Linked DNA regions of Homo sapiens. The protein of the gene in region 4 purifies or fractionates together with the protein of the main gene of each other region. This does not show direct contact. Each region holds a gene or a part of one and is shown on either strand. Other genes may lie near its edges. The genes, in order: USP34, NMNAT2, MYO1E, UBE2V2, RAI14, MYO5B and ZFYVE19.

Region 1 (4,284 bases), on a different chromosome or scaffold from region 4:
AACAATAAATCTTCTTTCCTAATTATCTCACACAGAATCAGTGGTCTCAATATATGGAAATTTTACTAAAATTTGGTTTTCCTGTTTTCAAATAGTCATGGCTCTTAAACACAAGTAGTATGTCTTTAAGCAGATACACTCCATAGATTTAAATGTGCATTTTAATAATTTATATGGAAAAAAGCAATATATTTTTTAAATAGGACAAAATTTAGATTATATATATATATATATGCATATGTGTATATCTTATTAAAGTATGCAGCTGTCATAAGTAAATTACTCAAGGTCAGTCAAGAAATTAGGATTCAAGTAGGACCAAGACCCAGGTCTTGAGATCCTTAACACTAGGAAAAACCTGCCTTGGTCTACCAGTCACAGCCTGTGCCTCTGCCTCTGTTTCTTGCTCAGGATGGCTGCTTCTATAGCACTGGAAGCTTTGGAGGCCTTATATGGTTAGGCTTTGTTTTAAGGGAAATTTGGGGGCACAGTGAGTTCTGTCTGTGAAAGAAGTCAAGCGAAGGGAGTCCTGCGATGCAGAAGTAGAGAAAGCAATAGGGAGCAATAGGTAGTGGGAGAGTACAGAAACCAAGAAACTACCCAAATCAGGAAGAATGAAAAAGAACAGCAGTAGCAGTGGAGAGGGAAAACGAGATCTCCAATTGACTGAACAGAACACTCAGCTCAAAAATCAACTGATAAAAGTCATTTTCTGAATGCCTACTGTATGCTAAGTCAAGTGAGCTAAGATCAGTGTATACTAGCCTCTGAAAGATTTCTACTGTAGAGAACAACGTGGCATTTCTTCAGGGGATGGAGATGACTCTGATAAGGTCTCTACACTTGAGTTCTGTTTTGGAAAAGTAGAGAAACCACCAGTAGAGTACAGGATGGCAAACATCTAGGAGAATCCAGAGCACACTACAGCCTGGTAGGAGGCTGAACCAGACTCAAAATACTTCAGGAAAGCATGATGTGGGTCAAGGGTTGCACCTAAGGAAGGTGAATAAATTCATCTCTTCCAATGGGGTAGAGCAGATGCAACCAGGCAGTACAATCAACAGTTTTTTCAGGGACTGAAAGGTAGTGGGGATCCTTTATGCCTGATCCAAGGAATGAGCCAAACATTAGTACCTCCTCCTCTTCCCAATTCTGCCTTTGTAACTTAACAAGCATTATTTATGCAGCCACTTAATTTTAAGGAGTTGGCTCTTAGACACTTAAGGTAGGAACAGTAATCTTTCCTGTTTTCAAGGAGATCGCTGTAAGAAAACAAGTGCATCAGACCCCTGAAAAACTACAGATTATGAAAAGCTAAAGGACAGACTGCTGACAGGGTTTCTGCTAGAGGTTTTGGAATGGTGGAAAAGAGGTAGAGACAGGGAGGTGAAGGAGAGGAAGAAGTGGCAAGTGCCTTTTCCCCCACTATCTCCCTGTTTTGGATTTTCCCCACAACTGTTGATATACATCTATAAATGAGAAATTCAATTATAACCAGCTTATTTAAAATATCCTCTATGATAGAAATCTACTTAAGTTAAAAAAATCAAAGGGAAACTAGATGCCTAATATGTAATAGCTAGTATTTTCATTCATTCATATGTTACCTATCAAGATTCTAAAATGTCCCCACTTTTCAGCAAGTCTTCAACCCACTGTTCCTAAAATTATTGACCACTTGGTCAGATAAGATTAAAGACCAATCATCTAAAACTCATTTTCTTTACCTGAGTCTGGCATAGCTCAGTCCAAAGTTTGGGGAACAGTGCAAGATGAAGTGGCAAACCTTCATAGGCAACTAGGACACCTAATATTTGAAAAGAAATCAGAATAGGTTATAATTATAAATTATACTAGTGAGATACTCAACTCTGCAGGTACAATATTACAGCTATTTCTAGTCATAACTGCATATTTTCTATATTTTAAAGTACATAAAGGGGAAAAATTCATTCCAATGTTTAGTGAAATATCTTAGAATGTGGTACTTTGAATTTATTTATATCCTATACCTCATTCCTGAAGGATATGGGACTTAAATCAACTCTTCTTTTTTGAGTATTAGAACTTTATCTGGGAAAAGAAAAAGTTACTGCAAGTGGCTCCAAATCTTTCTTGGATTAAGGTACCACTCTGCCTATTAGATAATTTTCATAGGGTGGCTAGACTGCAGGAGGGAGGAGGGGAAAGGTAAAAAAAAAAAAAAAAAAAAAAAAGTGGAGAATTAAACATATCTTTCCTCTTTTACCTTCTTTCTTCAAAGATAGAATGACCTTTGTGGTACATTTAAGTAAATGCGGCCCTTAACACCAGTTTCTTGGCTTGTTCCCAGGATCTTCTGAGTGGACCGCATCTGGCACTATGTCAGAGAGTGCTATTTGGAACCTCTATGAATTTACTTCTCCACTTCTTGACTATTCCAGATGTAAAATATGTCACTAAGATGTGTGCCCCTATCCTCTGTCATCCTATCTCTGAAAGTACAGAAGCTTCATTACCACAGTCCTAAATGAATTTCCCATCTTCCACATCCCCTAGGGTCCCCAGGGCAAGTATAATCATGGAGAAGAAGAAATATAACACAGACCATCCTCTTCCAGTTAAGAAAAGACTGAGTTAGACAAGGAGTCAGCAAACTTGTTCTGGGAAGGGCCAAATAGTGTTTGAGGCTTTGTGGCCATGCTCTGTTAACACAGCTCAACCCTGCTGAGGCAGTGTGAAGGCAGCCTTAGACAAGAGTAAGGAAATGGGTGTGGCTGTCTTTCAGTAAAACTTTACAAACACTGAAATGGGAATCTCATAATTTTCATGTCAGAAAATATTCTATATTAAAAAAAAATTTAAAAATATGAAAACTATTCTTAGCTAGCAGGTAGCCATGGTTATACAAAAACAGGCAGCATGTGGGTTGTAATTTGCCAAACCGTGGGTTAGACCAAGGACTTGAGAACATCCTACACAGGCAAGTCAGGTCACTCACTCAGAACTTACCAAGGATGCCTAGGATCCCTTCCACAGGTAAGCCAATTTATTTTCCTGTCAAGATGAGTCCCTTTAGACACAAGAGGCAAGGAAATGCTACTTCCCCTTTATCCTAACCTAATCTGGTTGGTGTTTGGCAGCATATACCCACCACGGTATCACCACACACATAGGTAAACAAGGACATGTCATCACATCTGTGGCTATAGGGAAGAGAGTTCCTACGTTCCCATGTTCCTGTATCCTAATTACTCATCAAAGTAGAGGAAGGGTTAGCAAACTATGGCCCTCAGGCCAAATCTGACCCATGGCCTGTTTTTATATGGACTTGTGAGCTAAGAATGGCTTTTTCTTTGAGACAGACAGTGTCTTCACTCTGTTGCCCAGGTTGGAGTGCAGTGGCGTGATCACAGATCAGGGGCAGCCTTGAACCGCTGTGCTCAAGTGATCCTTACACCTTAGCCTCCGTAGTAGCTAAGACTGCAGGCTGGGACAATTTTCTTAAAAAAATATTTTGGGGCCAGGCGCAGTGGCTCATGCCTGTAATCCCAACACTTTGGGAGGCCAAGGTGGGCGGATCACCTGAGGTCAGGAATTCGCAACCAGCCTGACCAACATGGAGAAACCGTCTCTAGTAAAAATACAAAACTAGCAGGGCGTGGTGGCACATCCCTGTAATCCCAGCTACTTGGGAGGCTGACGCAGGAGAATTGCTTGAACGCGGCAGGCGGAGGTTGCGGTGAGCCGAGATCGTGCCATTGCACTCCAGCCTGGACAACAAGAGTGAAACTCTGTCAAAAAAAAAAAAAAAAAAAGTTTTGGGCCAGGTATGGTGACTCACGCTGGTAATCCCGGCACTTTGGGAGGCCGAGGCAGGAGAATAATGAAACCCCGTCTCTACTAAAAATACAAAAATTGGCTGGGTGTGGTGGCACACACCTGTAATCCCAGCTATTCAGGAGGCTGAGGCAGGAGAACTGCTTGAACCCGTAAGGCAGAGGTTGCAGTAAGCCAAGATTATGCAACTGCACTCCAGTCTGGGTGACAGAGCAAACTCTCTCAAAAAGTTTTGTAGAAATGGGGTCTTGCCATGTTGCCCAGGCTGGTCTCAAACTCCTGGCATAATTCATCCTCTTGCATTGGCCTTTGAAAGTGCTGGGAGTACAGGCATGAGCCATCATATCCGGCTGGCTTTTACATTTTTAAAGGTTAAAAAAAAAAAAAAAAAATCAGCCAGGCTGGGCATAGTGGCTCATGCCTGTAACCCCAGCACTTTGGGAGGCCAAGGCAGGCAGATCATGA
Region 2 (4,284 bases), on a different chromosome or scaffold from region 4:
CAAATATGGGGCTGGGTGCGGTGGCTCATGCCTGTAATCCCAGCACTTTGGGAGGCTGAGGTGGTCAGATCACCTGAGGTCAGGAGTTCAAGACCAGCCTGGCTAACATGGTGAAACCCCATCTCTACTAAAAAATAAAAAAATTAGCTGGGTATGGTGGTGCACGTCTGTAATCCCAGCTACCTATGAGGCTGAGGCACAAGAATCACTTGAACCCAGGAGGCGGAGGTTGCAGTGAGCCAAGATGATGCCACTGTACTCCAGCCTGGGCAACAGAGCTAGACTCCATCAAAAAAAAAAGCAAATGTGACACACTTATCAGAGTGACACACTTATTAAAATCCAAATAATGCCAAATGCTGGTAAGAATTTGGAGCAACAGAAAGTCTCATTCATTCCTGGTAGGAATATAAAATGGCACAACCACTTTGGAAGACAATTTGACAGCCTCTTAAAAAGCTAAACATAATCTTACCATATGATTCATATGGCTCCTTGTGTAGATTCCCTAATTTACGTCTTCACAAAAACCTGCACATGAATGTCATATCAGCTTTATTTATAATCACTAAAAACTGGAAGCAGCAAAGATGTTCTTTGGTAGATGAATGGATAAACTGAAGTACTTCCAGACAATAGACTATCATTTAGTGATTAAAAGAAATGAGCTGCCGGCCGGGCGCGGTGGCTCACGCCTGTAATCCCAGCACTTTGGGAGGCCGTGGCAGGCGGATCTCCTGAGGTCAGGAGTTTGAGACCAGTTTGGCTAACATAGTGAAACCCCATCTCTACTAAAAATACAAAAAATTAGCTGGGCATGGTGGTAGGCGCCTGTAATCCCAACTACTTGGGAGGCTGAGGCAGGAGAATCGCTTAAGCCCGGGAGGCGGAGGTTGCAGTGAGCTGAGATGGCGCCACTGCACTCCAGCTTAGGGGACAAGAGCGAGACTTCCTCTCAAAGAAAAAGAAAGAAATGAGCTATCGAGCCATGAAAAGACATGGAGGAACTTTAAATGCATACTGCTTAGTGAAAACAGCAAGTCCAAAGAGGGTACATACTGTATGATTCCAACCATATGGCATTTTGGAAACGTCAAATCTATAGAAAAAGTAAACAGAACCGTGGTTGCCAGGGGTTTGGGAAAAGAGGAGGCATGAATGGGTGGAACACTGAATTTTTAGGGGATGAAAATACTGGGTATGATACTATAATGAAGGATACAATTGTCAAAACCCACAGAACTCTACAACACAGAGTAAATCTTAATGTAAACTATTGACTATAGTTAATAATGTGTTAATAATGATTTGTCAAGTATAACAAGTGTGCCACACTAGTGCAAAATTATTAATATAATGGGGGAAACTGCATGAAGGGAGGTAAAAAGGTGGGAGGGGTCTGAATATATGGAAGTCTATGTACAATCTGCTCAATTATTCTGTAAATCTAAAACGGTGTTACAAATAGTCTATTCATTTTTTTTTTAATCTAAGAAATTTCACATTGAAAGAAAAAGAAGCAGCCAAGTGCCGTGGCTCATGCCTGTAACCCTTGCATTTTGGGAGGCCAAGGCAGGCAGATCACTTGAGGCCGGGAGTTTGAGGCCAGCCTGGCCGACACGTGGAACCCGTCTCTACTAAAAATACAAAAATTAGCCAACCATGGTGGCTCATGCCTGTAATCTCAGCTACTTGGGAGGCTGAGGCATGAGAATTGCTTGAACCCAGGAGGTAGAGGTGGCAGTGAGCCAAGATCGCACCACTGCACTGCAGCCTAAGTGACAGCGTGAGACTTTGTCTCAAAAAACAAAGAAAGAAAGAAAAAGAAGCAAATATGGTGAGATCTTTTTTCAAGTGTTAAGAAATCCAGCAAAGTAATTCTGAAAACTTGCTTGTAAACTACACAGCCAGCTTTGCTGCCCAGGCCGCCTTCTACTTAAAAATTCCTTCACTATAAACTCCATGCTAGATTTTTCCTCAGTGGAATAAGCTCAGGCCCTGTTGACAATTTTTGTTTTGTTTTGTTTTGTTTTTAGATGGAGTCTCCCTCTGTCACCCAGGCTGGAGTGCAGTGGCACGATCTCAGCTCACTGCAATCTCTGCTGCCCGGGTTCAAGCGATTCTCCTGCCTCAGTCTCCCGAGTAACTAGGATTACAGGCGCCTGCCACCGCGTCTGGCTAAGTTTTGTATTTTTAGTAGAAAAGGGTTTCACCATGTTGGCCAGGCTGGTCTTGAACTCCTGACCTTGTGATCCACCTGCCTCGGCCTCCCAAAGTACTGGGATTACAGGTGTGAGCCACCACACCCGGCCCCTGTTGACATTCTTAAAAGGAATTGTTTTGGAAGTAAGATAGAACCAGACTTTTCAGTCCCTTCCTTGTTTGCCGAAATTTATTGCGAAAATAAAATTGGGTTTGTCTGATAGATTTGAAAAAGCAATATTGCATACCTTCCAAAGGATAAAAGGCTTTTATCTGGCCAAATTTTTCGTCTCAACCAAGTCTAAGATGGTGGTCTTCTGGGTTGATTGCTAATTCTTTGTAATTATCTACAAGGCCCTTTAAATTTGTTTTGGTGGTTTTTCTCTTCTGAATAATTAGATGAGGCAATCAGCACATCTTTCATATTATAAGGAGGCTTTTATTTATTTATTTTTTAAATACTACTCCTCCACATTATAACTCCTGCAAGTGACAATAGGGGTAAATTCCAATCTGTAGCTCTAATGGCTGCTAATGAGGCGCTTGTTTTAAATCCTTCTGAGCTACACTGGCTCCTCCCACAGAGGACTTTTAAAACAGGATGAATCTCCTTGAGTTCTAAATCCTTTTGCTTTGGGGGCTGAAATCTGGTTCTGTAACCTTTTGAATCACCAACATTTGCTTTGAAAGTTGACATTTTCTATTTAAATGGCAAGAGAGATGGGAAATAAACCCCAGCATTACAGAGCTGAGCGTATTGATTTCAATTATCACCTTTAATCCATGCCTTTCCTCTTTATAATGTGTGGGTTTCTTCTCTTAATTAGAAAGAGCCAGGGATTATCTGCACAAAACTGGAAGGTTTATTGTGATTGGCGGGATTGTCTCCCCTGTCCACGACTCCTATGGAAAACAGGTGGGTTCCTTCCTGTGCCCCTCTCCTCTTCAATCCCCGTCCCCCCATCCCTGGCCTGATAGTTCCTGGCAGAAAAACTGCCCCCGCTCTGTCTCTGCTAAGATTCCTGGAAACACAAAATGCCCAGGTCCATGCGTCTATCCTGCTTCCCATCTCAGGACCACAGTCGGACCTGAGTGGATGGGCGTTGAAGCAGTAGCTGGAAAGACCAGCTGTCCATGACCGTAGAGCCACTTACGGGCTGGTCAGGACTCACTGAAAGAGGAGCAGAAACACCCACTGGGTGTGGCTTGGTATGGTGGATGCCAGATTGGCAGCTGGTTATGGGTTGAGCTGCACTGGGCAAGTCTTCTCAGGATTTTAGGAGAAAACGGCCTATGCCTTTTATAATCTGATTTAAAATTCATATCCCTGCTCATCCCTCCCTGCCACGTGTCCCGGCAAATCTAGGAGCTCCACCCATCATTCCCCCTTTCTCCCACAGATGCACCTTGGTGGGCTCTGGGGAAACTCACCTAACCAGCCAGACTGAGCCATAAGACAAGGCCACATTTGCTGAGTTAAGTCTCATCTCTGCAGGGCACACAGGGGCTGCTTCGCAAATGGAGGCTCATCTATCGACCTTGTTGGGGTGGTATATACCACACACCCTTTATTTGTTTCCTTTCCCACCACCATTCCAGGCCTGCCTGTGTGGCAAACGGACAAGTAAAGGGGTCACATTCTTCATTCCCTCTCACCACTGAAAAATGGCTGCACTTTAACAATGGGTGGGCTTGGGCTGGTATCCCAAGGATGTTGTGGGGAACGGAGGGAGTCTCCCAATGATTGCTCTGTTGCTTCCCAGGGCCTCGTGTCAAGCCGGCACCGTCTCATCATGTGTCAGCTGGCCGTCCAGAATTCTGATTGGATCAGGTAGGACTGGCCTGAAGATGCCAGAGGCAGTGGCCCGGAGACTTACTGGGAGTGGGGTGGGGAAAAAAGAAGAGTTCCAGCAGTAATTTGGATCCTGAAAGGATGGGGAGGCAGGGGCAAGATATTAGCCTTGTGGAGGCAATAAGTAGACCTCCAGGGATACCTATAACTTTATTTTTGAACCAAACTGTGAGGCCCATGAATGTAAAGAATGTGCTTGAATGTTTCATCTGCTTTGACATCTCTGAATC
Region 3 (4,284 bases), on a different chromosome or scaffold from region 4:
TTTACTTACATTCTTAAAATAGCTTATTAGATTCTTCTGCATTTAAATCTAAAATTTTCTATAAGGTCTGCATCTTCCTAGGACACCAAAAACAGCCCTATTATTTTTTCATTGAAAATTTCTTAGAATCAGATAATACTGTCCAAAATATTCTGTGACCATGTAATGTTATCCTAAATTGCTGTCAACATCAAATGGTGGTCACACCGAAGAAATTATTAGGAGACTAACAATGTGATATTCTAATTTTGTTGTTGTATTCTGTAATGTATTTAAGAATTAAACAACTAAATCTCTGTTGTTCTCACATTTTCCTATTTTCTATTTTTTTTAATCCTAGTTAAGATTAGAGAGCCTTCTAGTATGACTTTCTTTTTTTTTTTTTTTTTGAGACGGAGTCTCGCTGTGTCACCCAGGCTGGAATGCAGTGGCACGATCTCGGCTCACTGCAAGCTCCGCCTCCCAGGCTCACGCCATTCTCCCACCTCAGCCTCCTGAGTAGCTGGGACTACTGGTGCCCACCACCATGCCTGGCTAATTTTTTTTGCATTGTTAGTAGAGACGGGGTTTCACCATGTTAGCCAGGATGGTCTCGATCTCCTGACCTCGTGATCCACCCGCCTCGGCCTCCCAAGGTGCTGGGATTACAGGCGTGAGCCACCATGCCCGGCCAGTATTACTTTCTTTTACTTTTATGCTTGCTCTCACTATGACATCTTCTAGTCTCTATGGCAAAGTCCCAAAGCAAGGAAATTAAAACTCAGAACACTACTACTCATAACAGACAATGTTCTTAAGTCTAAATTATCCCCTCTGGTATTACTGAATAAAATCAACCAAAATTGGTGATTTTCTATCAGCCTTACCTTCCCTCAGGAGTATGTGAAATAATGAAAAAGTATACAAATACGTGGACTCGGCATTGTCAAATTTAGAAATAATTTATTGAACCACTTTTCAAAGAGCATGGACTTAGCAGATCTGGCTGGTCACATACAAATTGTGTGGCCCTAAGTAATTCCCCTCCCCTCACTACACTTTGATTTTCTTACCTGTAAAATGGCAATAAAAACCAACACTGGTGCTAGAATGAAATGAAATCATGTATATGGAAGCCTTTTGTTATCATTTCTCCACTATATGGGGAGCTTCTCATAAGCAGAGGCAGAGAGACTAATTCATCTTTTTGGAGACGGAATCTTGCTCTGTCGCCCAGACTGGAGTGCAGTGGCAAGATCTTGGTTCACCACAACCTCTGCCTCCCATTTCAAGCGATTCTCCTGCCTCAGCCTCCCGAGTAGCTGGGATTACAGGTGCCCGCCACCCCACCCAGCTAATTTTTTTGTATTTTTAGTAGAGACGGGGGTTTTGACATGTTGGCCAGGCTGGTCTCGAACTCCTGACCTCAAGTGATCTGCCCTCCTCGGCCTCCCAAAGTGCTGGGATAACAGGCCTGAGCCACCATGCCCAGCTCTAATTCACCAAGCCTGTATGCTAACCTCCTTTGCCATGGCAATGTCTTCTCTCCACTTTGAGGTTCAAAGCTCTCCATCTCCATCCACTCCCGTTCTCTGGTAAGACCACTCATATTTGCCAAGGAAGACCTAGAGGTCTGAGTACCCACTGGTGTCACATATTTGAGTGTCAACGCCAGAATCCAGGGGGAGCACCAATGGTAGGTACCTTTGGGCTAGAACCTGGGAATGTGGAGTATGCATCCCAAGCTCACCCAAAGAGGGGGCTTCTTATCTCAGGAGCCAAAGATTAAGCAGCCCATTACTGACCACAGCGGTTCTAGTGGGTGGAAGGAGGAACTCTCCCCTGTACACACTTCTGGAGGAAGTCTCCATACAGTTATGACACACAGTGAGTAATCCGGCTACATGGGATTATAATACTGCCACCAAAATATAACAAATATGCTTATCAAGAAAAAGGATTTGTAAAACAAGTGGAAAAATAACAGAACACAAATTGTATATTTGCCCCATAATTACAACCACATAAAAACAATGTGTTTGAGGCCCGGTGTGGTGGCTCATGCCTATAATCCCAGCACTTTGGGAGGTCAAGGTGGGTCACTTGAGGCCAGGAGTTCAAGACCAGCCTGGCCAACATGGTGAAACCCTGTCCCTACTAAAAATAAAACAGTTGGCCGGGCATGGTAGTGTGTACCTATAATCCCAGCTACTCAGGAGGTTGAGGCAGGAGAATCGCTTGAAACTGGGAGGCAGAAGGAGGTTACAGTGAGCCGAGATTATGCCACTGCACTCCAGCCTGGGCGACAGAGTGAGACTCCATCTCAAGAAAAACAAACAAACAAAGAAACAATGCATTTGAACAGACTGAAAGGAAACCCAGAGACAAAAATAATTACTGTGTTAGGGTGTGGGGGTACTTTGGGTGAATTATTCTAAATTTCTTTTTCTTTTTTTTTTTCTTTTTTGAGATGTGCCCCAGGCTGTAGTGCAATGGTGTGATCTCGGCTCACTGCAACCTCGGCCTCCCAGGTTCAAGCAGTTCTCCTGCCTCAGCCTCCCAAGTAGCTGAGATTACAGGTGCCTGCCACCACACTCGGCTAATTTTTTATTTTTAGTAGAGACAGGGTTTCACCATGTTGGCCAGGCTGGTCTCGGACTTCTGACCTCAGGTGATCCCTCCACCTCAGCCTTCCAAAGTGCTGGGATTACGGGCGTTAGCCACCGCGCCCGGCTGAATTCTTCTAAATTTCTTATAATGAAGTTAGTACAGTAACCTTCCACCTACAAGCAGACTTTCTTGAAAAGTCCCAGAAAGAAAACTATCTGGTCACGTCCAGACTCTTAAAGAATTATTCCCACCACTGTTTGGTAAGAAAAACCTTATTAGACTGGGATCTAATAAGGTTAGATCTGCACTGGATCAGATCTAACTTGGATTCTGGCACCAGCTCAGCTAAAAACTAGCTATGAGACTTTGGAAGTAATTTAACCTCTCTAGATCTCTCTGTGAAGTTAACAAATGGATTTAGGATAGAATTTTTAAGCTCTCTTCTGGGCTTTCTACAATGTAGCCTATGTTTTACTTTCTATAATGTAACGTATGACCATAAAGTGCTATAAATGAATTTGTAACAAACATTATCAGAGCTCAAAAGACCCAAGAGAGTGTGCCTCCTTCAGAGCAGTTCTTATACTTATTCCAGGAAAAAGGGACCTGCTGGATACTGCATATCTTTAGTGGGGCTAATTGTTCCGCCTTTGAGGCACAATGTAACTTCTGGAAACACCTGAGAGGGATGTAATACAAAGTCTGGTGAGTAATAGGAATGATCACACTGGGCACTAAGGAGTTAAAAAATAAAAAATAAGGCCCTCCCTCCTTCCCTCTTCTTCCCTTCTTTCTCTCTTTTGAGACAGAGTTTCACTCTTGTTGCCCAGGCTGGAGTGCAATGGCGTGATCTAGGCTCACTGCAACCTCCGCCTCCCAAGTTCAAGTGATTCTCTCTGCCTCAGCCTCCCAAGTAGCTGCGATTACAGGCATGCACCACCACACCTGGCTACTTTTGTATTTTTAGTAGAGACGGGGTTTCACCAGGTTGGCCAAGCTGGTCTCAAACTCCTGACCTCAGGTGATCTGCCCACCTCGGCCCCCCAAAGTGCTGGGATTACAGGCGTGAACCACAGGGCCCAGCCCTGTCTCTTTCTTTTTTTTCTCTCTCTCTCTTTCTCTCTCTCTCTCTCACTCTCACCCAGGCTGCAGTGCCACAGTTACAGCTCACTGCATACTTGAACTCCTCAGTTCAAGAAATCCTCCCACCTCAGCCTCCCAAGTAGCTGGGACTATAGTGCATGACACCACACGTGGCTAATTTTTAAAATTTTTTTTGGTAAAGGCCTGAACGACCACACCCGGCAAAAAAATAGGTTTTATTACATAGCTCATAAATGACCATTCAAAAGTGCTTTGAACAACGGCAATGACGTCATTCTCATGGTGGTAACTCAGAAGGGCGGGCCAACTTCATTCACATGTACAGTTTGAGTTCTATGGGTTGTCAAAGTTCATGTCACTATGTTAGGGCTGGCTTTTACAGTTGTACTTCTCTTAAGTGTGGCTGTCCCAAAGATATATGAAAAAAATACTTTGCTAGGATGCCCCAAAACCTTTTGTCTCTGCCAACATAAATTCTGAAACTGAAATTCAAAACACAATTTGTTTACCACTATTACAGAATGTGCTTATAAGGCTGAGATGTTTATTTTAATACCTTTGGCATTTAACCTTTAACCTCTTATTTACTTT
Region 4 (4,284 bases):
CTGCAAAACTTTGATGGCAATGACCATATCAACCTTCCTCCCCCCAATCCTCTACGTAATCGAGCATTATATCCTGCACGTGGGAAGCATCAATAAATGTAAACAAAATAAAAAGGAACTATTTTAGAAGTTATCATAATTGCTTATTTTAATATCAATAGTATAAAATTAAATGCTAACTTTAACAATAAGTATTAATAGAAAAAATATAATTTATAACACTGACCCTTGGTGGCCCAATAATCATGCCTGTCCACCTTGTAAGTGTCATATCTTCATCATCTTCAAGGCCCCAGCTAACTGTACCGTCGCCTACTCCTTTTTGTCCTTCTTCAAGTTCTTCCAACAAGCGAAAATTACGAGGAACTTTAACTCCTATACAAAAGAACGTCAGTGTAAATGTAAAAAGCTCATAATTATAAGAGCTACACGTATTTAAATTCAGCTTTTTCCAAATTAACCTTTATAAATTATTTCCCAAAAAGACCAAATCCCCTTTAAAAAGCATTCTGCTCCAGAAAATGCTGAATCTAATAACCCCTCAAAATGAAAACACTAAAGAAAGCACTGTACCAAACATTAACAGCAGTATACAACGTGTATATAAATTCCTCATCAATTTTATACTGATGTAAGTCAATCAACCATAAGGAAATCGTTTTCCCTATTTGATGTTTCTGTTACAGCCAAGGACTCTGCACCAATCAAACAGGCATGCCCAGAAAGTTCATAGAAGCCAAAGTTCATTAATATATACTCTCTAATGATTTTCAAAGAGTAGAATTATGTTCCATCTTAGAAAGTGCACCAGAAGGTACTGTCTTTTAGAATCCTGAAGCAGTCCCACCCAACCTGTCTCAAAAAAAAAAAAAAAAGAATGAGGAGTGAACCTTCATGTGAGGGGCATGTGAAAACAGAATCTGTCAGAGAGTAAACAGACCATGGACTTCTAAAGCAAATTCACACATCAAAGTTCAAATAATGGTGCAAAACCACCTCCTGTGAACAACTGACTTGGCTTTCAGTATGTCTCTTTAAAGAAAACATTATCATTTTATATGAGTTTCTTAAATGCTATTGGTAATATGGAGTTTAATTTTATGCACCTTAGATAATACATTTTTTAATGTGTTTGTGAGATTTTCATGGATGGTTTTTCAAAATTCCTAATTTTAGTTAGTAAGGATTTGACTTTGGGAAGACAGAAAACCTTTCAAGTAAAATGAATAGGCTTATATACATAAAGAAACTTCTTAATGAATTTAAAAGTGATCCTGTGAAAAACATAATTCCAGTGACATGGATGCCTAAATTTAAAAGAGTGGATACGGCTGGGCCTGTAATCCCAGCACTTTGGGAGGCCGAGGCAGGCAGATCACCTGAGATTGGGAGTTCGTGACCAGCCTGACCAACATGGAGGAACCCCATCTCTATTAGAAATACGAAATTAGCCGGGCATGGTGGCACATGCCTGGAATCCCAGCTACTCGGGAGGCTGAGGCAGGAGAATCGCTTGAACCCGGGAGGTGGAGGTTGCGGTGAGCCAAGATCACACCATTGCACACCAGCCTGGGCAACAAGAGAGAAATTCCATTTAAAAAAAAAAAAAAGAAGAGTGTTTACACAAGTAAAGTGTGTCTGCTTTTTAAGAGTTTATTCAGTTTAGGAAGGGGAGTCAAAATTTGTACTTGATTTCAATTTATTGTTATCTGAAATTGAAAGTATTCCTACCTTTTTTTGCTTTCGTGTATATGCAAAGGTAAATATTTATTAATCAAACCTTATAAATTTGAGGTGATTTTAGCCTGATTTCTCAGAACTTTTAATTTGTCTGTGTAGAAATGGGTTTACTAAATATTTTTAGACAATTTCTTAAGTATCTACTTTTATTTGCATACAGTAAGTTAGGAAAGACATTTAATGTTCCTCATACACCTGCTGTGTTATTTTGTGTGTGTGAGACAGAGTCTCGCTCTGTAGCCGAGCCAACCTCCACCTCCCAGGTTCAAGCTATTCTCCTGCCTCAGCCTCTCAAATAGCTGGGATTACAGGCGTGCAACACCATGCCCGGCTAATTTTTGTATTTTTAGTAAAGATGGAGTTTCACCGTGTTGGCCAGACTGGTCTGGAACATTTAATGTTCCAGAGGCGGAGGCTGCAGTGAGCCGAGATCGCACCACTGCACTCCAGCCTAGACGACAGAGCGAGACTCTGTCTTAAAAAAAAAAAAAAAACAACAAAAAAGGCCGGGCACAGTGGCTCACGCCTGTAATCCCAGCACTTTGGGAGGCCGAGGTGGGCAGATCACGAGGTCAGGAGATCGAGACCATCCTGGCTAACACGGTGAAACCCTGTCTCTAGTAAAAATACAAAAAATTAGCCAGGCGTGGTGGCGGGCGCCTGTAGTCCCAGCTACTCGGGAGGCTGAGGCAGGAGAATGGTGTGAACCCAGGAGGCAGAGCTTGCAGTGAGCCGAGATCGCACCACTGCACTCCAGCCTGGGTGACAGAGTGAGACTCTGTCTCACACACACACACACACAAAAAAAAAAAAAAAAAAAAAACCCAGCCTGGCCAACATGATGAAACCCCATCTCTACTAAAAATACAAAAATAAGCCAGGCATGCTGGTGCACACCTGTAATCCCAACCAGCTACTTGGAAGGCTGCTGCAGAATCGCTTGAACCCAGGAGGTGGAGGCTGAAGTGAGCCGAGATCAAGCCCCTGCCCGGGAGACAGAGCGAGACTGTCTCAAAAACAAAAACAAAACAAAAAAAGAAAAAACAGAGGGGACACTTTCCTAGATTTTAAGACTTCCTCATCAGCTAAAGAAATCATTAAGAAAATATGGAATCAGTACAGAAATGGACAGACTAATGAAAAAGAAAAGCCCCAAAGCAGACATATCATATATGAAAATGTGCTTCTTAGTAGAGGCAACACTAAAAGTCAGTAAAGAGAATAGAGGCATGACAACCAAATGCAATCTTGGTATCAGGAAAAATATTATTATCATTATTTTGCTTTAAAGAACAGTAGTGGTGAAATCTGAATAGGGCTGGTAGATAATAGTCCTCTATCAACATTAATTTCCTGATTTTGATAATTCTATTGTAAGAAAATGTCCTAGTTGAAGAATGTAGGGGTGAAGAGACAGTATCTGTTAACTTACCCTTGAATGGTTCCCCCAAAAAACAAAATCGAATGTGAAGGGAGGGGGGAAGAGAGAGTACACACAAGAGCAAGCAAAAATGTTAAACATCAACATTTGATGGATCTGCATGAAGGTATATGGGAATCCTTCGTACTACTTATGTTAACTTTTCTGCAAATCTGAAGTTATTTCAAAAGAAAAAAAAAAAAAAAAGTAGAAAAGGCTGGGCATGGTGGCGGCTCACACTTGTAAACCCAGCATTTTGGGAGGCAAAGGTAGGCCAATCAACTGAGCCCAGGAGTTGGAAACCAGCCTGGGCAACATGGCAAGACCCCATCTCTACAAAAAATACAAAAATTAGCCAGGTGTGGTAGCTGGCACATGCCTGTGGTCCCAGCTATTCAGAAGGTGGGGATCACCTGAGCCCAGGGAGGTCAAGACTGCAGTGATCTGTGATCACACCACTGCACTCCAGCCTGGGCCACAGAGTGAAACCCTGTCTCAAAAGAGAAGGAAAAAAAAAGTAGGAAAAGTTAATGGTGTTGGAACACTTTACCAATATGAAAAAATAAAATTAGAACCCAATCTGATCTCATAGTATACATAAAAATCAATTATAGGCAGATTAAATGAAAAGATAAGCCACAGACTGAAAAAGGATGTGAATAACATATAGAAGACAAGAACGTTATTCAAAATACAGAAATAATTCCTCCTAGAAATCAACAAGGAAAAGAAAACCCTAGAGAACAATGAGAACATATTAGGAATAAGGTTTACAGAAAACAGTAATGACCAACAAACATAAAAATATGTTCAACCTCATCAGTAATCAGGGAATCATAACGGCTTATTCTAGCCACCAAACTGACAAATACTAAGTCTGATAATTCTTGATCTGGGCAAACGTGTAGATATTGGAAGTTCATTCACTGCTGAGATTAGAATAAACTGGTATAGAAGCTATAAATAAACATAGTTTTTATACATATATACATATGTAGCAAAAAGTATAAAGGTGTTAGTGGAAAAGATATTTAAAAATCAGGGGTCGGGCGAGGCACGGTGGCTCACGCCAGTAATCCCAACACTTTACGAGGCCAAGGCAGGTGGATCACCTGAGGGCAGGA
Region 5 (3,677 bases), on a different chromosome or scaffold from region 4:
ATCAGAGATGACTGGTTTGGGTTTATCTCAGTTTCCTCTCCAGCTGAGTGTCCCCATGAAGTCACCTTCTGAGTTGTCTGGTTGGCCACAGTTGAAATAAAAGGTTCAGTTGAGTATCACACACATGCTTTCTTTGAAATAAAGTTTCAGGGTATAGTAGGAAGGCACAATGAAACTGAAGTAGAGGTGGAATCATGTTGTAAGTGAAGGGAAATGGCCTTGTTACATTGGAGTATGATAAACAATGCTAACTTCTTAAGTAGCTGTACCTATTTCATGTAATTTTGATTATGATTATAACCTGCAACAATTTTAATTATGATTTTAACCTTGCCAGAATTCACCTGACAAGAGTTTTGTCAGGAATTAATTGAATTGTCTTTGTAATGGGGCAGGAAAATGTATCTGGATTTTTTTTTTACATATGTATGTATTACTTTTTCAAAAAAAGCAAGAAGCAAGAGGGAAAAAAAATCCAGCGGAGGCTTCCAAACAGTTAAACAGACTGCAGATTAAATGAGAGGCAATTGTGAATTAAAGGCAACTGTGATTCAACTGCCCCAAAGCGGCTGATACTCAGGGCAGAGCTCAGGGCGAATCCAAGAGCTGGGAAAAGGAAATGATGTGAGACTTTGTGTGAGACAGTGCGGACAACTCATACCAGCTGAGCATAGCACAGACTAGAAAACCTATTACACTGAAATGCTATTGAACTGATCTTCAGAAGCCACGCAGATATGCTTCTGAATACACCAAAAATCAACACCAGAAATGCAAAATGAAACAAGTTTATTTTCTCCAATAACTTCTGTAAATTACAAAGACAAAATACTAAAAACTACAGCATATAACTTTTCAATATTTAACCAGAGTACTCGTAATAAATATGCATCCGGAAACAAGATAAAAGGCTACACCTCGTCAGGCATCCTACAAAAATGTCTCAAGTTTTATATACTCTGCAGCATTTCTGTGCGGGGGCAGAAGGGGCTGTTGTGTATTTTCTGAAGTGCTGTGACAAAAGGTCCTTTCACATTTCTTTGGAGCATTTTTGAAATTGCTTAACTATAATTAAACAACTTAAGAAAAGTAACACCAAGCTTTAAAGCCATTTTTGCTTTGCTGTCATTGGTCCTTATCCAATACAGATCAACATATCATCCAGCACAGCCAAGCACCCACTGAGGCCAAGCAGCCTTGTGGGACATGGGCCCTGTCAGAGCAGGCCCTACTTTCAGTTAAATACTTTGGAGAGTCCAGGATTCTGTCTCTCTCCCTCAACAAGATTAATGCCATAAGGGAAGTTGCAAGCGTGTTAGAAACATTTTTAACCTGAAAGTAAAGTGAACAGAAATATTTTTTTTCCGAGACCTCTGCTATGCACCATAATATTACCATATCAGGGTTTTTAGCTTCAAAGTTGAAAAACAGATTGGTACTAACAGTCCTTCTAGAGATCATTTATGGGCGCTGGTAGAGTCAGGGCATTCAAAACATTCAACGGGTAAAAGGAGGATTTGCTAGATTCAGAAATGCGCTACAATTCTGAAGACACCATGGCTGAAAGTTCTAGGGGTGTTGGTGGCAGCTCATATTAGGTCTGGCATACATAACTACCTTTTGCTATAGCTGAAAACTTTAAGGAAAAAGTTATATTTTTAAAAAGTCTCAAGCATGGCTACCTAAAAAGTATTTTGTTAATATAATCTACTGTAATTTCACTTATTTAGGAGTTCAGATATGAAAACATCTTTATGAGCCAATAAAAATATTACAGAGAAAAAAATACTTCTACAAAAGTTGAGGTTAAGAACTATGAGGCATTTCTTTTGGCTGTAAACACACAGTTTACTGTCCCTTGTTGAAACACAAATGTTTGGATTTCCTGAGCTTCACAGATAACAGCAGGAGGCAAGTTTGCATAGAAAATTTGCAGTATGTCAACAATTTACTTAAAAAAAGAACTTTTAAGGACAACTTGCTTTTGTTTTTAAGTTTCATATTTTAGTTAATAGTGCTCATCAAACTGAATATTGATAAGCAGGGTGATGAGATATATAAGGCAGATGGGAAGAAAACATGGAATTAGAGTTTTTAAATCCACAGGATATCATGATGAAGGGTTTTAAGCAGATACTTCATAACTAGTGCCATACTAATTTAGTTAGAAATTAAATCATGTTTTGGAATTGAAAGCCAAAGGCAAAAAGAGCTCTCCTGTGCTGAATGGCACTGCCCGAGTACAGGAATGGAAGGAGCATTCACTGCAGGAGGCCTCAGCACATCACTCGGTGGTGATAAAGCCACTCAGCCAGTCAGGGATGGAGGAGGGGGCCCCCCTGCCAGCATCAGGACCAGACCTCTGGGCATGGCTGATCCCAGCTCTGGAATCTGAAGGGATGACAGGGACTTTCACCTCTGCTGGTTTGAAGTCTCTAAGCAGTTCTGAGGCGGGCAGTCTTCTCCTGGGAGAAGTCCTCAGAAACCTTTGGAAAGGGAAGAAGCTACGCTAGGCCACAGTGCATACCACGAATGAGAACAATGGCAGCGGCTGCCGACAACTCTGGATCTAACACAAAGACAGATGACAAGGGGCAGTGTCCTGCCAAGGAATCCACTTTACTTCTTTTGAGACTGGTTTTTACACATGGTAAGGATTTGCTTCAGTACTTTCTGGACATCTTCATCCATCTGGCCCTAGGATATTCAAACACAAGATACTCATTAGAACCTAAATTAAGCCATGGCACTTTCTTCTCTGGGGAATGAGATGGCTGACTGCAATGAAGACCTGGGCTAATTCCCACATCTTTCACAGGAATGTCAGCCCTATCATTTCCCAAATTTCTATGAGGAACTGAGTCAAAGAAAGGGCCCTGCCTTTATCCAGCTGGAAGATGAGGTGGCAGTGTCTACCAAAACCCTCAGCAAAAGCTATCTGGGGTCTCAGTTGCAAATGTGAGTCCAGCAGCCAGAACACCAAGCATCATAGAGCCAAGGCAGCACTGGTAACTAAGAAGATCAGCATTGCTGGAAAATAAAGCCCCCGTCTTCCCAGTGGAGGACCACATCATCCCTCATTCCTCAATAAATGATGGGAGGGTGGGGCATGGTGGCTCATGCGTGTAATCTCAGCACTTTGGGAGGCCGAAGCGGGTGGATTGCTTGAGCTCAGGAGTTTGAGACCAGCCTGGGCAACATGGCAAAGCCCCATCTCTACAAAAATACAAAAATTTGCCAGGTACGGTGGTGGGTACCTGTAATCCCACCTACTTGGGAGGCTAAGGTGGGAGGATCACTTGAGCCCGTGGGTCGAGGCTGCAGTGAGGCGAGATTATGCCATTACACTCCAGCCTGCATGACAGAGTGAGGCCCTGCTTTAAAAGATGGGGCTGTTCCTGGTAAACAGGGCACAAGGCTCCTGACACAGAATCCAAAGCAATGCAAAAGGCATATTCAGGCTTTCCAGTGAAAAGGATTCTCCTCTAATTCTTGTTCATTCTCCTAGTTAAATGATGGGAGTTCTGTCAACATCTGCTGCCGTATTTCTTTAGGATGTCCAGATACTTCAAGGGGCATAACCATACCTGCACAGCATACAGAAGATGCATTCTGTAAACTGATATGACCTCCTGGTGTTGTTTCTTGCATTCCTAGAAAGGGAATATTTCACATTA
Region 6 (4,284 bases), on a different chromosome or scaffold from region 4:
TGGGTGCTGTGACTCATGCCTATAATCCCAGCACTTTGGGAGGCTGAGGTGGGAGGATCACTTGAGGCCAGGAGTTCAAGACCAGCATGAGCAACATGGTGAGACCCTATCTCTACACACACACACACACACACAGAAAAAAATATATATATATATATTATTTTTAAGTTAGCTGGGCATGGTGTCGCATGCCTGTTCCCAGCTACTTGGGAGGCTGAGGTGGGAGGATTGCTTGAGCCTAGGAGATTGAGGCTGTAGTGAGCCATGATTGCACCACCACACACACTCCAGCCTGGGTGACAGAATGAGACCCTGTCTCAAAAAAATAAAAAATATAGAGTAGTCATTTAAATGAGCAAAAACAGTTATAAATAATGCCAGTTAATACAAACAAGAAATATAAGGAAAACAACACATTGTTCCCAGTGATCAATAATGTAGAGCCTACCAAGCATGTGAACAGAGGCTCAACCCTCCAATGAAAGTCAACTTTAAAACATGTGTAAAACATTTAGTATGAATAAGAATTTAAAAAAAAAAAAAGAGAGAGAGAGAGAAAGAACAATGACCCGAACTTAGAGTGGCGAAGAAACAGACTGGTTCTCTTGTGGTGGCTATTGGCCATATCAATGAAGACTATAAATGTGCATGCCAGCAATTCCAGCTTTAGGAATTTATTCTGAGAAAATAAATGAGGTTACAAGAACAATCTTTCACAGTATCAAAAGATTAACAATTTATTAGTATGTTCAAAAAAGCTAGAAGATAGGATCTTGAATGTTTCTAATGCAAAGAAATGATAAATGTTTGAGGTGGTGGATAACCTAATTGCCCGATTTAATCATTATACATTGTATACGTGTATTAAAAAAATCACTTGAACCCCATAAATTTGTGCAATTATTACTGTCAACAAAAAACAAAAGGAAAATAATTGGAACCAACCTAAATGCTCATCAGCATGGGAATGGTTAAACACATTACAGTATATGGCATCAGATCTTGGCAATTTAAAAAATGTATATTTTTAAGAAAAAATTACAGTACATCCATATGCTGCCTTGTGCAGCCATTAAAAATGGCAAAATTGCCTTTGTAGGCTACAGGAAAAGATAGCCATAGATTAAGATTTAGAGTAATAGACATGGCATGATCCCATTTGTTTTGAGTACATATTGTGCATAAGTCTAAAGCAGCACTGCCCAAGAGAAACAGAATGCAAACTACAACTGTGAGCCACCTGTGGTACTTTAAATTTTCTAATAACCACATTTAAAAGGTGAATTGAACAGAATATTTTAGCCAATATATAAATAACAATCACTTCAACACATAACCAATATAAGAAGTATGAAGGATATTTCGCATACATTTTTCTAAGTCTTGGAAACCCAGTGTGTACAGTACTGCACGCTTCCAGCTCATCCCAAGCTGGGCCAGCCTCATCGCAAGTGCTCAGCAGCCACATGCAGTTACCCTGTTGGACAACGGAGGTCCAGAGAACATGCCTAAGTGGTCAAGAGCAGCTGTTTCTGGGAATGAGACTACAGAGCTTTTGTCTTTCCTGCATTGTATGGATTGTTTCAATAATCATTTGTATTCACAGAGGGAAAACAGAAGCATTGTGAAAAATGCTTTTTAATTTTCCTTTAAAGCTATAATAAGAGACCAGAAAGCACAGGTTAAACTTAAAACTTCTTTCAGACTGCTCTTGCTCCTTCCCCAGGGGTGGTGGGGAGTACCATATCTTGTCTACCGCTCTCATAGTTCATGTTTGTAGCAATCCTACTTCCTCTTTCACCAAGTCTCCTTGTGATCAAGACCCCTTCAGGACAGCAGGGAAGGGTTAGGGGAAAAAACATGCTAGCCACATAATGCTGACTGCCACCCAGCATGGTGACTGGAGGGAGAAGCAAACTAATGAACAGTTGCCAACACTATGTTAGACAAGCACTTCACATGGATTAGGATTATAAGCCTCCAGTAACCTTCCCATGGTGCAGGTACCACCCCAATTCTTCAGATAAAGAAATCAAGGCTTAGAAAGTATCTGTTCCAATGTGTCGGAGCTGAGAGCGCCACAATATCCAGGGTGTCCACCTCAAGATCATAGTCACAAAGGCCTTGGAAATGCCCATACCAAGCTCCTGATCTTACCCTTATTAACACCATGCTATCAGACAACTGCATTTCTTCATTAAAGAAAAGCAAATCCCAGGCATCATTTGCAAGAACCCCAGATCCTGACATTTCTCCTCTAAGCTCTTTCGTAAATCTCCAAATGTAAATAAATGCTTTCACTTAGACAAACCATTTTCATCCCAAACCCAACATGTCAAAAATCAAGAATTATCCCTGCTCCAACCTGACTTCTGTCCACACTCAAGGTGGATATTTCAAGTTCATAGTTGACTCTTCTACTTCCCTTGCCCTTAATAAAACATTTATTGAGTTCTAGTCTCTGTAATTTCTACATAACTACAAAAAGTAGTAATGAGTACACCTAGCAACCAGATCTTCATTTCTAAATTCCATTCTTCAATAAAAGGAAACTGACAGGCATCAGCTTAACCAAGGGATCAAAGTGATCCGTCAGTAACAGGACACATTGATATCACTGTCTCCTGAGGTGATGCAGTGAGAAAGGCACAGCATTTATGATGTGTTCTTGCCCAAAAGTCACAACCTCCATGTAAGCATAAGACAGTCTGACAAACCCAAAATCATTCTACAAAATTATTGAGAAATGCTTTTTTTGGGGGGGTGGGCGGTGGGCAGACAGGGTCTCACTCTGTCACCCAGCCTGGAGTGCAGTGGCACAATCACAGCTCACTGCTACCTCAACTCCCAGGCTCAAGCAATCCTCCCACCTCGGCCTCCAGAGTAGCTAGGACCACAGGTGCATGCCATCACACCCAGCTAATTTTTTCTATTTTTTGTAGAGATGAGGTCTCGCTATGTTGTCCAGGCTAGTCTCGAACTCCTGGGTTTAAGGGATCCTCCCATCTTGGCCTCCCAAAGTGCTAGGATTACAGGTGTGAGTGACTGTGCCTGGCTTGACCAATGTTCTTCAAGTGTCAAGGTCATGAAAGACAAAAAACTGAGCAACTGTCACTAGAGGGGGGCAGGGAGCTACAACCCTAAAGGCAATGTGGAACCCTAAACAGGATCCTGGCCCAGAAAAAGAACATTAGTGAAAAAGGTGGTAAAATTCCGGTGAGCTTTATAGACCAGTTAGTAGTATTACAGAAATGTTAACCTCCTGGTTTCAATAATTGCACTATGGTTATATGACATGTTAACACTGGAGCAATCTGGAAAAATATAGAAACTGCACTATTTTTGCAATGTTTCTGTAAGTGTATATTTCAAAATAGTTAAAAATAGTGCTATAATTATCCCCATATACATCTAGCTCATACCTGTCCCTATGCTTAAACTCACTCTCCCCTGTCTCCTCCTGAGAGAACATCCTTCTTTACAGCCTCCTCATGCATTTCAAATCCTATTCATTCTTTAGGCCCCAGTCATGTCCCACTACACCTTAAAGGAAGCCTTTCCCGCAATACTGTAGCCCACCAGACCAACACTTCTACAAAATGCCTGTAACTTGTAGAGGAGTATGTGCACTCCTCTAATGACACACAGATAATCCTGTATTGTTAGTGTACTTTGTGTATTTAGCTTTTATCACCAAACACACTGAAGGCTCCTAAAAACATCTGGTATGGCCTCTGTTCTCCAGAATCTCAGCCTACTTAGATAAAGCATCACATAAAAACTATCAACAAGGCTGAGGTGGGTAGATCATGAGGTCAAGAGATTGAGACCATCCTGGCCAACATGGTAAAACCCCGTCTCTACTAAAAATACAAAAAGTAGCCGGGAGTGGTGGCACACACCTGTAGTCCCAGATACTCAGGAGGCTGAGGCCGCAGAATCACTCGAACCCAGGAGGCAGAGGTTGCAGTGAGCTGAGATCGTTCCACTGCACTCTAGACTGGTGACACAGTGAGACTCTGTCATAAAAAAAAAAAAAAAAAAAAAAAAAAAAAAAACACACACACCTATCAACAAAGGAGGGCAGGGCAAGAGCCTGCTCAATGATTACAGGTTACAGGCCATTGGAATATGCCACATCCACAAGTCACAAGTACAAACTTCAAAATTCTGATGATCGCCAACATGGTGAAGCAGGATCCACTGGGCTTATAGGCCCATCTGAAAACGGGGAGCAGAGGATCAACGGAATTGGAACTAGGGATGAGAGAAGAAAAAAACCAC
Region 7 (3,532 bases), on a different chromosome or scaffold from region 4:
TCTTCTAGATAAAATGAGCACAGAATCAGGAGAATTCTCTCCTCTCTGGCTCCTGACTGCCCTCTTGGGCTGGTAAAGCAGCTCTTCAGCCCTCTCTCCAGGACAGGCACTTGGTAGAGCTTGTCCTTTCAGCTGGACCGTCTGGCTGGTCAGCCAGGTTGGGCTGCAGGGTGACATGAGTGAGGGGCACAGCAGATTGCCCATTGGAGGCCTCCCTAAGTGCCCAGAAATGATTTGATTTGAATGGGAAACAGTGAGTGGGTGCCTTCACTCTTCCCCTCTGCCTTCTTCAAGAGCCTCTATCTCATATCCTGCCAGGCGTGTGGCAGCCTTGGAAGCCAAGCAAAAGCCCAGCACTTCCCAGAGCCAGGGACTGACACGACAAGACCAGATGATTGCTGAGCGCCTAGCACGACTCCGCCAGGAGAACAAGCCCAGTGAGCAGGGGCAGATGGGGTTGCCTAGAGGACACAGTCCAGGGCTTCTGGGACTGAGATGCCTCTGGCCCTTACAAGGCTCCCCCCATGCCAATTGCAGAGTTAGTCCCCTCACAGGCAGAGATAGAGGCACGGCTGGCTGCCCTAAAGGATGAACGTCAGGGTTCCATCCCTTCCACCCAGGAAATGGAGGCACGACTTGCAGCGTTGCAGGGCAGAGTTCTACCTTCTCAAACCCCCCAGCCGGTGAGTGTTATGGCTTAGGAGAGAAGCGGGGGTGCTAGCGGGAGGACCCAGCAGAAGCCCAGATACAGGTATTGGGGTGATACAAAAGTAATTGTGGTTTTTGTCATTACTTTTAATTGCAAAAACCTCAGTTACTTTTGCACCAACCTTTGTACTTTATGTACTTTGCAGGAGTTGGCAAAGCCTCCCACCCCTACCTCCTGATCCTCAGGCCTGCTACCAGACCCGGGGACCAGGGACAAACAGCACGATAGGGTAGGGCAGGAAAAAGTGGCCCCTCAGTCCTGTTGGGGACGGCCAGACCTACTTGATTATGTGGGCCCTGGATCCCTCTCCTTTCCCTGGGCTTTGAGAACTACTTAGCATCCATCCCTGACCTAGACTGCTTCTGGGCTACCCCTGCTCTCCACTGAGGTTTCCTCGTCTGTGCAGGCACATCACACACCGGACACCAGGACCCAAGCCCAGCAGACACAGGATCTGCTAACGCAGCTGGCAGCTGAGGTGGCTATCGATGAAAGCTGGAAAGGAGGAGGCCCAGGTAACCCCTCCACTTGGCTCCCTAGGAATCTGCCCTACCTCTTTCCCCAGACTGGAGAGGCTCTGCTGTCCACCCTCTGGGAGATGAATATAAATCGGAGAGTGATCAACGTTATAAGAGTTACCATTCATTGAGTGCTTACTCCAAAGGGAGCCAGTGTAAGCCTAGTGTTTAAGTGCACGGGCTTTAGAATCAGACAGTGATTCCCATTTCTACCACGTATTAGCTGTGTGATGCTGGACAAGTTACTTGACCTAAGTCTCACTTTCCTCATGTGTAAAATGAAGGTATGTATGGAAAAACCTACCTCACAGGGAAATCAGGAGGAGTAAACGAGATAATCCAATAAGTGCTTGGGAACATACCTGACTCATAGTGAGTACTCAGTGAATATTCTCTGCAATCATGATGTTGATAAGGAGGAAGAAGCTATTTAGTAAAACCAGCCACATCTCAATGCTCAGTAGCCATATGGGCTTCATGGCTACCATCTTGGACAGCACAGATATAGAACATGATATGGAATGTTTCCATCATCATAGAACATTCTGTTGGACAGTGCTGTTTGAAGGCTTCAGAGCAGTGGTTTTCAACAAAGGATGATTTTGCCCCCAGGCTACTTGTGGCAACATTTAGAGACTTTTTGGTTGTCACAACCCAGAGGATATTACTGGCACCTACAGGATAGAAGCCAGGGATGCTACTAAATCTACTATGTCACAGGACAGCACATCATGATGAAGAATTACCCGGTCCAAAGTGTCAAGAGAACTAAGATTGAGAAGTCCTGCTTTAGAGGCACAATCTCATTGAATATCCTCAATAATCTTATGAGGCCAGGTGTGGCTCACGCCTGTAATCCTAAGCACTTAAGGAGGCAGAGGCAGGAGGGAGGATAGCTTGAGCTGGGGAATTTAAGACCTGCCTGGGCAACATAGCAAGACTCTGTTTAAAAAAAAAATCTTATAAGGTACATACTATTCTTTTTTATAAATGAGGAAACAGGCCTGGTGAGCTTGAGGAACTTGACCAAGGTCACACAGCTATTAAGCTGCAGAGATGAGACTTAAACCTAAAGCTGTGATTTTAAACCTCTTGCTCTGAAACACTAAACTGAAGGTGACTGTGTCAGAGCCACACCTAATCTGGTAAAATTCTTCCTGCCCAGTGATATACAAGCTCTTAGCTTCCTTCATTGCCCTCTCTGTGCTAATCCCAGGAGATGCTAATTCCTGCCCTGAAAGGCAAAGAGATCGGCTGAACCTGGGCCTTATCATGTCTTGATCCTTTAGGGCAGTGATTCTCAAACCATAGGACGCCCACCCTTAGGGCAGAATGTTAAAATATCAGGTAGATGGGGATGGATGTGGTTGGAAAAGACATGGGTAAAATTATTAGTTTTTTACATTTGGAAAAATGGAGGAATACTAATTTTATTTGTGATAGAAACCATAGGCGCTAGTGCTGAGCAAAAAGCTGATGATCTGTGATTAGAAAGGGTTGAGAAAAGCTGGGCATGATGGCTCACGCCTGTAATCCCAGCACTTTGGGAGGCTGAGGCGGGTGGATCACGAGGTCAGGAGTTGGAGACCAGCCTGACCAACATGTTGAAACCCCGTCTCTACTAAAAATACAAAAATTAGCCGGGCATGGTGTCACGTGCCTGTAATCCCAGTTACTCAGGAGGCTGAGGCAGGAGAATCGCTTGAATCCAGGAGGCAGAGGTTGCAGTGAGCTGAGATTGCACCACTGCACTCCGGCCTGGGTGACAGAGCGAGACTCCATCTCAAAAAAAAAAAAAAAGAAAGAAAGAAAGAAAGAAAGAAAGAAAGAAAAAATTATTAAAGAAAAAGAAAAGAAAAGGTTGAGAAATGGGCTCATTGGCTTCTGAGGAGAGATACTGGGATGTCTCGGCCTTGCTGATGGCATTACCCCTTCCAGCTGCCTCTCTCCAGAATGATCTCAACCAGGGTGGCCCAGGGAGCACTAATTCCAAGAGGCAGGCCAACTGGTCCTTGGAGGAGGAGAAGAGCAGACTGCTGGCTGAGGCAGCACTTGAGTTGCGGGAGGAGAACACGAGGCAGGAACGGATTCTGGCCCTGGCCAAGCGACTAGCCATGCTGCGGGGACAGGACCCCGAGAGAGGTGAAGGCTGGGGAGCAGCTGCTCACTGGTATCCCTTGGTCAAGGCCTCCCTGGCAGGGCTGAGTCAGGTGCTGGGGGTATTTGCGCCCAGAGATCTACTGAGCCCAGCCCAGAGCCACAAGGAAGGTGGTAGAGCAAAGCAGTGGGTGAGGAGTCAGGGGCA

Evidence for each region.
Region 1: the proteins of UBE2V2 (region 4) and USP34 fractionate together in Homo sapiens (co-fractionation; one large-scale study listed by BioGRID). This does not show direct contact.
Region 2: the proteins of UBE2V2 (region 4) and NMNAT2 purify together in Homo sapiens (co-immunoprecipitation; one large-scale study listed by IntAct). This does not show direct contact.
Region 3: the proteins of UBE2V2 (region 4) and MYO1E purify together in Homo sapiens (affinity purification with mass spectrometry; one large-scale study listed by BioGRID and IntAct). This does not show direct contact.
Region 5: the proteins of UBE2V2 (region 4) and RAI14 purify together in Homo sapiens (affinity purification with mass spectrometry; one large-scale study listed by BioGRID and IntAct). This does not show direct contact.
Region 6: the proteins of UBE2V2 (region 4) and MYO5B purify together in Homo sapiens (affinity purification with mass spectrometry; one large-scale study listed by BioGRID and IntAct). This does not show direct contact.
Region 7: the proteins of UBE2V2 (region 4) and ZFYVE19 fractionate together in Homo sapiens (co-fractionation; one large-scale study listed by BioGRID). This does not show direct contact.

Annotation. Positions count from the first base shown.
Region 1 is NC_000002.12:61,191,174-61,195,457, forward strand, and holds part of USP34 (ubiquitin carboxyl-terminal hydrolase 34), read right to left. Parts: intron 1,808-4,284; coding exon 1,728-1,807; intron 1-1,727. UniProt on the Homo sapiens protein: Ubiquitin hydrolase that can remove conjugated ubiquitin from AXIN1 and AXIN2, thereby acting as a regulator of Wnt signaling pathway.
Region 2 is NC_000001.11:183,292,539-183,296,822, reverse strand, and holds part of NMNAT2 (nicotinamide/nicotinic acid mononucleotide adenylyltransferase 2), read left to right. Parts: intron 1-3,029; coding exon 3,030-3,118; intron 3,119-3,965; coding exon 3,966-4,033; intron 4,034-4,284.
Region 3 is NC_000015.10:59,362,605-59,366,888, forward strand, and holds part of MYO1E (unconventional myosin-Ie), read right to left. Parts: intron 1-4,284. UniProt on the Homo sapiens protein: Actin-based motor molecule with ATPase activity. Unconventional myosins serve in intracellular movements. Their highly divergent tails bind to membranous compartments, which are then moved relative to actin filaments.
Region 4 is NC_000008.11:48,039,124-48,043,407, reverse strand, and holds part of UBE2V2 (ubiquitin-conjugating enzyme E2 variant 2), read right to left. Parts: intron 376-4,284; coding exon 227-375; intron 1-226. UniProt on the Homo sapiens protein: Has no ubiquitin ligase activity on its own. The UBE2V2/UBE2N heterodimer catalyzes the synthesis of non-canonical poly-ubiquitin chains that are linked through 'Lys-63'. This type of poly-ubiquitination does not lead to protein degradation by the proteasome.
Region 5 is NC_000005.10:34,829,708-34,833,384, reverse strand, and holds the end of RAI14 (ankycorbin), read right to left. Parts: intron 3,654-3,677; coding exon 3,588-3,653; intron 2,698-3,587; coding exon 2,620-2,697; 3' UTR 773-2,619; downstream 1-772. UniProt on the Homo sapiens protein: Plays a role in actin regulation at the ectoplasmic specialization, a type of cell junction specific to testis. Important for establishment of sperm polarity and normal spermatid adhesion.
Region 6 is NC_000018.10:50,184,760-50,189,043, forward strand, and holds part of MYO5B (unconventional myosin-Vb), read right to left. Parts: intron 1-4,284. UniProt on the Homo sapiens protein: May be involved in vesicular trafficking via its association with the CART complex. The CART complex is necessary for efficient transferrin receptor recycling but not for EGFR degradation.
Region 7 is NC_000015.10:40,809,534-40,813,065, forward strand, and holds part of ZFYVE19 (abscission/NoCut checkpoint regulator), read left to right. Parts: intron 1-318; coding exon 319-437; intron 438-537; coding exon 538-683; intron 684-854; coding exon of another isoform or gene 855-937; exon of another isoform or gene 938-938; intron 939-1,115; coding exon 1,116-1,224; intron 1,225-3,165; coding exon 3,166-3,369; intron 3,370-3,532. UniProt on the Homo sapiens protein: Key regulator of abscission step in cytokinesis: part of the cytokinesis checkpoint, a process required to delay abscission to prevent both premature resolution of intercellular chromosome bridges and accumulation of DNA damage.